3 linked regions of the Homo sapiens genome follow. The protein of the gene in region 3 purifies or fractionates together with the protein of the main gene of each other region. This does not show direct contact. Each region holds a gene or a part of one and is shown on either strand. Other genes may lie near its edges. The genes, in order: DNAJC17, BUD13 and KIN.

Evidence for each region.
Region 1: the proteins of KIN (region 3) and DNAJC17 fractionate together in Homo sapiens (co-fractionation; one large-scale study listed by BioGRID). This does not show direct contact.
Region 2: the proteins of KIN (region 3) and BUD13 purify together in Homo sapiens (affinity purification with mass spectrometry, with the first as the bait; one large-scale study listed by BioGRID). This does not show direct contact.

Annotation. Positions count from the first base shown.
Region 1 is NC_000015.10:40,776,458-40,780,109, forward strand, and holds part of DNAJC17 (dnaJ homolog subfamily C member 17), read right to left. Parts: intron 3,541-3,652; coding exon 3,471-3,540; intron 3,147-3,470; coding exon 3,088-3,146; intron 2,854-3,087; coding exon 2,766-2,853; intron 171-2,765; coding exon 85-170; intron 1-84. UniProt on the Homo sapiens protein: May negatively affect PAX8-induced thyroglobulin/TG transcription.
Region 2 is NC_000011.10:116,759,336-116,762,987, forward strand, and holds part of BUD13 (BUD13 homolog), read right to left. Parts: coding exon 3,218-3,652; intron 1,618-3,217; coding exon 1,400-1,617; intron 1-1,399. UniProt on the Homo sapiens protein: Involved in pre-mRNA splicing as component of the activated spliceosome. As a component of the minor spliceosome, involved in the splicing of U12-type introns in pre-mRNAs.
Region 3 is NC_000010.11:7,777,994-7,781,645, forward strand, and holds part of KIN (DNA/RNA-binding protein KIN17), read right to left. Parts: intron 2,315-3,652; coding exon 2,271-2,314; intron 2,186-2,270; coding exon 2,063-2,185; intron 1,027-2,062; coding exon 845-1,026; intron 1-844. UniProt on the Homo sapiens protein: Involved in DNA replication and the cellular response to DNA damage. May participate in DNA replication factories and create a bridge between DNA replication and repair mediated by high molecular weight complexes.

The sequences.
Region 1 (3,652 bases), on a different chromosome or scaffold from region 3:
CTAGCCACGGCGACCACCAGGTCCATCCTCCCCCACCTCCTCCTCCTGCAGGTGGCCTTCTGGCCAGTGTGCCTGAGTGCTCACCTCTTGCTCTAGTGTCCTGGTGCTCCGGCTCTCCTCTTCCTCCTCACTCTCCTGGGCCTGGGCCTGCCGCTCCCGGGCCTCCAGGTCTAGACACAAGGGTTGAATGACCAGACTGCTGGTCTGTTCAGTTTCCATGTGGCCTCGGCCCACCCCAGCTCTGGCTGCCTCCCCAAAGTCTCAATCACGACGAGATCATACAGTAACTCTGCCCCCTCCCTCCATGCCCACGCCCCCGAGTCAATTTCCATTGAGAAAAATCACAGCACAGAAGTATGGGGTCTAGCAGAGTGGCCAGGGGTCTGGAAGAGTTAAAAACAGCTCACACTGACCAAGCTGGTTCTCTCTAGTGAACAGGGTGTGGGTGGTGCTTATGTCAGCAGCCCAGGGCCATGTGTCAGGGGTGCCAATGGGCGGAGCTGCTGGGCTCGATTCCTGTGGTTTGGCACCACAGCTTGACTTGCTTTGGCTTTGATTCTTTTCACACACTGAGCTCAGGTTCTCACTGTCTCCTTTACCTCCCACCTCAACTCACATTTACCAAGCCTCACTGTGGACCTGGCTACAGGGATGGGCAGAGTGTTAGGGCATCACCCCGGGTCCTGGATTGTGTGAGGGCGTTACCTTCCAAGAGAAACCTGCTTGCAACCATGTGCCAGGCCAGCTGCTGTGAGAAACCCTTCTCTTAGTCCAGAGAAGTTTGTGCACTTTACTTACTTAGACTCTCCTTTTCTCTCTCTCTCTTTTTTTTTTTTTTTTTTTGAGATGGGGTCTCCTGGCACTTGCTTTTCTTTTAATATAGAAATAGATATTGGGATGCTATATGCACATATTAAAATATATGGATGTTGAAGAGCAAGAGGAAAAGGAGAAACTTGAGTAAAGAATGCTTGGACTGGGCCAGGCGCGGTGGCTCACGCCTGTAATCCCAGCACTTTGGGAGGCCAAGAGGGGTGGATCACCTGAGGTCAGGAGTTCGAGACCAGCCTGGCCAATGTGGCAAAACTCCGTCTCTACTAAAAATACAAAAATTAGCCGGGTGTGGTGGTGCGCAACTTAGTCCCAGCTACTCGGGAGGCTGAGGCAGGAGAATCGCTTGAACCCAGGAGGCAGAGGTTGAAGTGAGCCGAGATCGTGCCACTGCACTCCAGCCTGGGCAACAAGAGCGAAACTCCGTTTAAGAAAAAAAAAAAAAGAGTGCTTGGACCATGCTGCTATAACCAGTGACTTTTTTTTAAGTGAGAAAAAAAAAATGCTTGCAGCAATCTTATTGGGTTGATGAAAATGTTCCAAATCTGATTTATAGTCAGAGTTGCATCATTTAGTAAATTTACGAAAAATCATTGAAGTGTACACTTGAAATGGGTTGATGTTGTGATATACAAAGAATACCTCAATAAAGCTATTAGAGAAGAGAAAGCCTGGACCTCTTTGAATCCTTCTGAGGGAGCTTCTCAAAGTGAAAAGTCTGGGTAGGAATTGGGGTTAGAACAAATTAAAAGACCCAGCCGGGCACAGCGGCTCGCACCTGTAGTCCCAGCTACTCAGGAGGCCAAGGCAGAAGGACTGCTTGAGCCCAGGAGTTTGAGGCTGCAGTGAGCCATGATGGTGCCACCCTAGCCTGGGTGACAGTACAAAACCCCGTCTTTCTTTAAAAAAAAAAAAAAGAAGAAGAAGACTCAGCCAGAAATGGTGAATACAAGCACCAATTTTTTTGTTTTGTTTTGTTTTTTGAGATGGAGTTTTGCTCTGTCACCCAGGCTAGAGCACAGCAGCGTGATCTCAGCTCACTGCAACCTCTGCCTCCCGGGTTCAAGCAATTCTCTGCCTCAACTTCTCGAGTAGTTGGGATTACAGGCACCCGCCACCACACCCAGCTAATTTTTGTATTTTTAGTAGAGAAGGGGTTTCACCATCTTGGCCAGGCTGGTCTCGAACTCCTGACGTCGTGATCCACCCGCCTCGGCCTCCCAAAGTGCTGGGATTACAGGCGTGAGCCACCGCGCCCGGCCACAAGCACCAATTTTACTCACACTGGATAAGTTTAAATCCCACCTCCAGCAAGCTCTTAAACTTTTGGTGCCTTAGCTCCTTTGCCTATAAAAAATGGCTTCAGAGGCCAGGTGCGGCAGCTCACCAGCTGTAATACCAGCACTTTGGGAGACTGAGGTGGATAGCTTGAGGCCAGGAGTTTAAGACCAGCCTGGCCAACATGGTGAAACTCCATCTCTAAAAAAACGGAACAAAATTAGCCGGGCGTAGTGGTGCATGCCTGTAGTCCCACTATCGTGAGGCTGAGGCACAAGAATCGCCTGAACCCAGAGGGTGGGGGTTGCAGTGAGCCGAGATCATGCCACTGCGCTCCAGCCTAGGTGACAGGGTGAGACCCTGTCTCAAAAAACCATGTTCTTAAAAAAGGTTTAGTACCCACACTTCCTTGTATAGTTATGATAATTAAAGGGACAATAAGGCATTTGTCACAATGCTTAGCTAATATTAAACCTTATTATTGTTATTATTCCTAAGAGTGTCTTTAGGAACCAACCTCTAAGAACAGCGTTTTGCCCAGAGCCTGAGCCAAAAGGCTTTGAGATGAGTTGCTGGAAGTGAAGCTTCAGGTGAGGGAGATGAATGAAAATGACCACAGGAAACCACAGGCCACCGAGCACTATGATGGCACCTACCAAGCTTCACTTTCTTCCTTTTCTCATCAAGTTTCTGGGTCCTCTCTGCTGCTTGCTTCTTGGCTTTCCTGACCTTGTCATATGCAGCCTGGCAGGAGAAAGGGGCACAGGGCAGAGGGTCAGTGAGAGAGTAAAGACAGAGCCCCGGCAATCTGCCTGGCCCCTAGCCCACGAGCCATCAGAGTGGCAGCCTGGTGACTGGGTCTCCTGGGCTTAGACAGCAAGGACTGTGCCACATGGCAAAGGGCAGAGGACCGAGGTTGAGAGGCAGCAGTGGTCTCTAACCATGGGGGACGATTCCGATGAAGGAGGCTGTGCTTACCCTGGCTGCAGCATCGGTCAGCACCTCCAAGGCCTGAGAAAGCTGGTGGAAGAGTTCAGCTAAACATAAGGATCAAAAAGACAGAAGAAAAATAAAGTTAAGACTTCGTAATGGTGTGCTCCCTCAAAAAAAAAAAAAATCTTCAAAGAAGTCACAGGATGGCAGACAAGCCGACATCAGCAGATGACAGACCAACAAGGAGGGGTGAGCATATCAGCAACTGACCAGACACCCCTCACAGGAGGGAAGCCCTGGGACCCATTGCCTGGAGCCAGGCAATGTGTGCTTACACCCCACAGCACTCACATGCAGAGCTTACATCGGGAAACACAATGCCCGGGTGAGTGGGTTTCTTTCTCCCCACGCCCTGAGAAGAGTCTCACCTGCTCTGGGATTATCTGGATTTTTGTCTGGGTGGCAGGAGAGGGCCTTCTGCCTATACGCCTTCTTTACCTGGAAGAGTCAGACAGAAGACATGGCCATTCACTCTCATCCCAGGGACAAACAGGAAAACCTTGCTCAATGGGTAAGGGGAATCCCATGCACACCTAAAAGAGAAGCTGCT
Region 2 (3,652 bases), on a different chromosome or scaffold from region 3:
CTATAAAAGAAAACCATCATCAAAACCATCAAGTTTAAGAATAAGCAGAAACACTAACAATATATTAAATGGAGGGCTACGCATTTGTATTTCTGACTTTTCAGTATATAAACTGCACACATGAAGACTATCTCAGGTCATCTGATCAGAAACCAGTATAAAGCACTAAGCCTTCCATTAGAGACCCATACTGATAAAATATTCCATTTACAGTACAAACTCAAGCAAACCTAAGATCCTTAAATTGTGGATATATTTCATGGTAATAACAGAAGATCTAACAAATGAAAACTTTTTGCTAATTTCCACTTAGCATCAAGATAGCAAATCAGCCCACGAATGAAGCACACAGTATATCTTGATATCCTTCAGCAACGAAATTGGAATAATATTAAGTTGTCCATGAACTAAATGGATATATAAAATGCCAAGAGGTCCAGCTGAAACAGAGACCTCTTTTTTCCCTAAAAAAGAAGAATCTCACTTCCTGGGTAAAGAACAGGCTGGTCTACCCTGCCAGGACCAGTCTTCTCAGAGTCTTCTACAGACAAGATTTACCTGATAAGTCTGCACTGGGGAGAAAAATGCACATCACAGGCTCTATCATTCTGTTTCTTAACCACTTACAAATAAGATTCCTTTACTACTACCAATGTTCTTTACAATATAATTACTCAAGGTTCATATGGATTTTGGGGTTTTTTGGCTAATTCATCAAGCCTTATCATGAATTTAAAACAAACCATTGACTTCTCAGACAACATGATTTCTAAAAGTGGTTTCATATTTTAAGTGCCTCTCCTTAAGCTCTGGATACAGAGACCTATAGTCCAATTTATACTAGTAAATCACTAACACTAGATGCTTACTTTGTCCCAGACACTGTGCTAAGAGTTTTACTTACACTGGCTTAATTATCATAACAACCTTACACAGTAGGTACTACTATTATCCACAATTTACAGATAAAGAAACTGAGGTTTAGAGATATTAAGCATCTTGCCCAAATCTCACAGACAGTAAGTGGCAGAAGGAGAATTTCTGTATGTGATCCGTTTGACACAATGCTTGTGCTCCAAACTTCACTCTGCAAATTACAGTCCTCGGTTTATTCCTAAGAAAATAGGAAGTTTTTCTAGACCTGTTAAAATGAGATTGTAGAATTAAGAGGCTATAAACGCAGAAGCTACTTGGGAAATCTGGTATCTGTAAGTCCATCTGGGATGGGTTATAGCCAGTTTGCCTTCAGAAGGAAAGACCTCCAAAGGTCCTTTTAACTAAGATTTACTACACTTCTCAGAGCTACATCCTTCTTCTTGGCTTGATTCTCTGGGACATATATAAAGCTGAGAGAGAAGAGTCACACGAAAAGAAGGACATGGCTCCTGAAAATCCTGACCTTCTTTCCAGGAGGCTGACTCCTTCGAGGCGGGGACAGGTCAGAATCAGAAGATTTGGTCCTCTGTCTCCTCCTTGGTGGAGAGAGGTCAGAATCAGAGCTCCGGTGTCTAGGTCTATTCCGTGGAGGTGACAGATCTGAATCAGAATCCTGGTGCCCTGGACTTTGTTTATGCCGTGGAGAAGAAAGGTCTGAATCAGTTGCTTTCTGGCAGTCACCTGGATAGGAGCAAAGAATCTGTGTGACTCTGATGTCCTCTAGGTGAAGAACTTACATGAAATCTCCTATGGCTGGGAGAAGAACCTAGAAATTAAAGAATTCCTTACATTATTATTATTTTTTTTTTTTTGAGACAGTCTCAGGCTGGAGTGCAGTGGCATGATCTCAGCTCACTGCAACCTCCGCCTCCTGGGTTCAAGCAATTATTGTGCCTCAGCCTCCCAAGTAGCTGGAATTACAGGTGTGTGCCACCACGCCCAGCTAATTTTTGTGTTTTTAGTAGAGATGGGGTTTCGCTATGTTGGCCAGGCTGGTCTTGAACTCCTGACCTGAGGTGATCTGCCCACCTCGGCCTCCAAAGTGCTGGGATTATAGGCTTGAGCCACCATGCCTGGCCAAAGAGTTCTTTAATCCCCTTGGAAGAATCTAAAAAGATAACTTACCAAGCTAATGTACAATATTTATTTAGTTTTCCTATGAAGAATTATCATTAACCTAAACATAAGTATGGATGGCACAGGAGAAGAGCAAAGTCAGAAACAACTTTTAAGACCAACAGGTAGAATATGGCATTCTATTCCCAAGTGACCACTGACTGTAACTGGTGTGTAAAATCTCCACACACTCCTCTATGTCAGTAACCCCACCCATGGAAAGACAAAATAACTTGTAGTCAGCTCTCCATAGTGTGGCAAAAGTCAGAAATACCTGGAATATAGTCTGATATCCTTGGACTAAAGGATAACAAAGTACTTTAATTTTAAAATTAAAATAGTTCCTAGGAACAAAAGAGGGAGTAAAAAATTTCACTGCACAGGCCTAAGTTCTAGCGACTGTATAAGCATCACAAGTCACCTCCCAAAGGGCATTCTGCAATATGTATCGACAGTCTTTAAAACGCCCACATCTTCTGACCCAGTACATCAACTTCTCAGCTTTCTAGGAAACTTATATAGAAGTAGTTGAATTTCGAGGAAATCTATCTAGAAGTAGATAAGGAAATAATCCAAAATGGGGACAACAGTTTATGTACAAGGATGTTCATTATAGAATTACAGAAGAAAAAACTTAGAAATAACCAAAAACATTCATTATTAGGAAAATGGTTAAATTTGTAATTAAACACTATTAAAAATTATACTAACATAAAGATGTTTTATGGCCTGAGGAAGACTACGTTAAGAAAGGACAGCAGGCAAGATTGCACATGCAATACAAATGTTCTACACAGCCAGAGCTCAACTATATAAAAAATGCAAACCAAAAAAGACTAAGATGACCCTGGCCACAACACTAACAATAATTGCCTCTGAATGACAGAATTTTGTGTCACATTTTATCTTTATATACTTCTGTACATTCCAAAGCTTCTGCAACAAATAAATTGTACTTTTATATGGGGTGGAGCGAGCACATAAAAAGACATATGAAAACCTTCCTCCCTGCCACCATAATTGTTCAACTCTCCCAAACCCAGCCTCTCACTTTTCAAAACTTTCCCAAAGAAATTCCATTCTTATACCTAATAAATCAACTAAACGGCCAAAAGAAAGCTCCCAGGGATACATACATCCCTCTCATGGACAGTCATATGCTCACCTTTGGAATCAAGCTGCTTCTTGTCTCCAAAATGGGATTTTGCTTGCTTTTTTCGTGGAGGAGAGATGTCAGGGTCATACTCATATTTGCTGTTCTTTGGGAATGACAAATGGGAGGCTCCTGACTCCTTCCAATGTGGAGAAGTCTTGCTAGAGGCTCTTTCTGGGGCTTTACCACTTTTGGTTCTGGGCAGGGAATAAGTGACATTAGGAGCCAAATCAGGGGAGTCATGACGGGCCCTTCTGAGTTGCTGTGTGTCTGAAGAGCCAAGAGTCCTCCTAGATGTGTCAGGGGAGTTGTTATGGACCCTTCTGGGGGAAGAGATATCTGAGGAACCATGACGGGCTCGCCTAGGAGGAGAGGGATCTGGTGAATCATGACGGACTCTCCTAGGAGATGCACCTGAAGAATTATGCTGAGGCCTCCTTGGGGGAG
Region 3 (3,652 bases):
GCGGAGGCGCTTATAAATATATGTTGAAATAAATGCCCCAACCTAGTTATTCTAACACCTCAGCTCCTTCCCTCCCCATTCATCTGGCTTGCACCCACTGATTCTTCAAGACTCCTGGGCACTGGGGTTGTATCCACCCTCAAATACTCTGTCCTCCCCAGGCCAGAGTAAACATTGCTTCTCTATGTTTCCACATGCTGCATTTACCTCCAGTACTGAATTAATTATAATCAGTTGAAATTATCTGTGTATATGTCTTCCCATTAGGTAGCGTCTCTATTTAGATATAAGGAAATTGAGGTTTGGAAATATTATGCAATTATACAAGATTATGAAGTTAGTATGTCAGGAATCAAACCAAGGTTTGTCAATGCCAAAAATGTGCTTTTGACACCAGGCTGGTTCTCCTCTTAGTTCAGGAACAGTGCCCACAGAACTTGATTCAACGCTGAAAAGACACAAGCTGGCTGGGCACGGTGGCTCACGCCTGTAATCCTGTAACTTTGGGAGGCCGAGGCGGCCGGATCACGAGGTCAGGAGTTGGAGACCGGCCTGACCAACATGGTGAAACCCTGTCTCTACTAACAATACAAAAATTATCTGGGCGTGGTGGCGGGCGCCTGTAGTTCCAGGTACTCAGGAGGCTGAGGCAGGAGAACTGCTTGAACCTGGGTGGCAGAGGTTGCAGTGAGCTGAGATTGCGCTACTGCACTCCAGCCTGGGCGGCAGAGCAAGACTCCATCTCCAAAACAACAACAACAACAAAAACAAAAAAGAAAAACCAAGCCATTGTGCTTCTTTAGACCTCTGGACGTTGCTTCTCAGGATGATGTTGCTTACCCACCTGTTCCTTCCCTTCCAGGCCTCTTCTCACTTGCTCTTCAATAAATTTGGCAGTTTTTTCTTCATCATCAAGGTCCTGCTTTTTCTTTTTCTCCAGTTCCAGTTGCCGGCGGATAGTTTCTGGGTCCCTGTCTATGTACTGAATATACCAGCCTTTTGGTGTCTCGTCCACTTTGCACAAGCCTTAAAAAAACAGCCACTGCCATAAATTAGCATACAATCAAAGCAAAACATAAATATGAATGTGTTTCACCTCTGCATATTTATTCATTCAAACACACACAAATCAGGCCGAGCGCAGTGGCTTACACCTGTAATCTCAGCACTTTAGGAGGCCAACACAGGTGGATCACTTGAGGTCAGGAGCTCAAGACCAGCCTGGCCAACATGGTGAATCCCATCTCTACTAAAAATACAAAAATTAGCTGGGCGTGGTGGTGCACACCTGTAATCCCAGCTACTCAGGAGGCTGAGGCAGGAGAATCACTTGAACCCAGGAGGCAGAGGTTGCAGTGAGCCAAGATCCTACCACTGCACTTCAGCCTGGCAACAGAGCGAGACTCAGTCTCAAAAACAAAACAAAACAAAACACCAAATACACTAAAACACATTCAAATACACAAATTCATGCAGCAAATGGGATTTTCCATATTTATATTTAATGAAATTTAGATACTGTATGTGAATTCAACCAACCGTGGGTGAGAAATATTCAAAAAAAGAAAAACGGATGGTTGCATCTGTACTGAACATGCACAGACATTTTTTCCTTCCCATTTTTCCCTAACAATAGAGTATAAAAACTATTTACATTGTATTAAATATTATAAGAAATCTCGAGATGATTTAAAGTATGTGGGAGGATGTATATAGGTTACATGCAAGTGCTACATCATTTTATTTTATATAAGGGACTTGAGTATCTGTGAATTTTGGTTATCAGCAAGGGGTCCTGGACCCAATCCCCCACGGATACTGAGAGACAACTGTATTACCTTGCATAGTATTTATTCAGTTCTATCTAAGTATTTAATGTCCAACAGTTATATGATGTTCTATTAACTTAAGGCAGAAATTATGCTCCCAAAATGGAATCAACTAACACGATGAAAAAGCAAAACACTGACCCAATTTTTTTTCTCTTTTCTTATCCCAAACATCTCATCCTATGAAGATTAGAAGTGGGAAAGAAAAAGCAACTTTAAAATCTCATTCTTACCTTCTCTGCCCAGCCACTTAGTAAAATCAGTCAGAGTTTCCCACTGAGTGGCATTCATGTGGATGTGCTCTCGGTGGCTGATGTATTCGTTGTAGACAATGTTGTTGTGGACCCTTTTAGTGCCTGAGAACAAAATATGACACTGATGATCATCAGAAGATTATGCCATTTATAAAGCTGTTATTTGCACAATATTTAAAATGTTTACCAAAGCGTCTCCTGAGAAGTTCTAGAAAGTCATTTCGGAATTCCCTAATAAAGAAAGAAAGGAAAGCATTAAGGTAATTTCTACAAACATATAGCATCATCTTTTTGAAATTTAAGCAGTAGTACAGTTTTTTGTTTTTGTTTTTTTTGAGACAGAGTCTCGTTCTCGTCACCCAAGCTGGAGTGCAATAGTGTGATCTCAGCTCATTGCAACCTCCACTTCCCAGGTTCAAGTGATTCTCTTGCCTCAGCCTCCCAAGTAGCCAGGATTACAGGGGTCCACCACCACGCCTGGCTAATTTTGTTTCGTATTTTTCGTAGGGATGGGGTTTCACCATGTTGGGCAGGCTGGTCTCAAACTCGTGACCTCAGGTGATCTCCACCTGCCTCAGCCTCCCAAGGTGCTGGGACTACAGGCGTGAGCCACTGCATCTAGCCAGTAGTATAGTTTTAATGTCCAAATGATATGTGAAACATCTACATGAATATGGCTATGAACCTTTAAAAACTGATCAAGGAAAGAACTCCAAAATATTATAGCTTTTAAGGATTAAGTTAAAAGTCAGTTGGGAGTTGAAATTTTTTGTCTTGGTAAAGCAGTCATAGAAACAGTTACCACATACCTTTGGAATGGGTCCTTCATGAAGTCTGTTAGTGCCACTGATGGTGGCATAATGACCCCAGTCTATCTATGACAACAAAACTGCCCTGATTCCACATGAAATTGGCACTTAATATGTCCCTCTGAGCTGGGTACACCGTATTAAGTGCTAGATAAACGTGGGTGAATAAGACATAAATCTTAACCTTCAAGGAGGTTACAATCTAGCATAACCAATCATAACAAAAGTTAAACTGAAGAAGAAGTGTAACAAAATACCATTGAAAGAGTCACAGGAGATGCCCAGAGGTGATTTCATTGTGGTCAGTGAAGGATAAGTAGAACCCTAGAGGTGAACTGCAAGAGAAAGCTATTTCCAGCTGGCACAGAAACATGAAAGCCTCACAGATCTGAGAAATGGCCTAATTTGACTAAAATTTATGGCTGATAAAAATGAGAGTGAGAGTGAGGGTAGAGTAGAATAAGGGAGACGAGGTGGCTGGGAAACCAAAATAAGGTTTGGCTAATTTTTGAAGTACCCCGAATGTCATGCGAAAGAGGCTGAGTTTTGTGCAGTCAATAGAAAAGCATTAAATAATTTTGTTTGGCCTGGGTATGATGGCTCATACCTGTAATCCCAGGACTTTGGGAGATCGAGAGAGGAGGATCACTTGAGCCCAGGAGTTCAAGACCAGCCTGGGCAACAAAGTGAGACCCTGTCTCTACACACACACACACACACACACACAGAATCAAAAAATTAGCCAGGTGTGGTGGTGTGC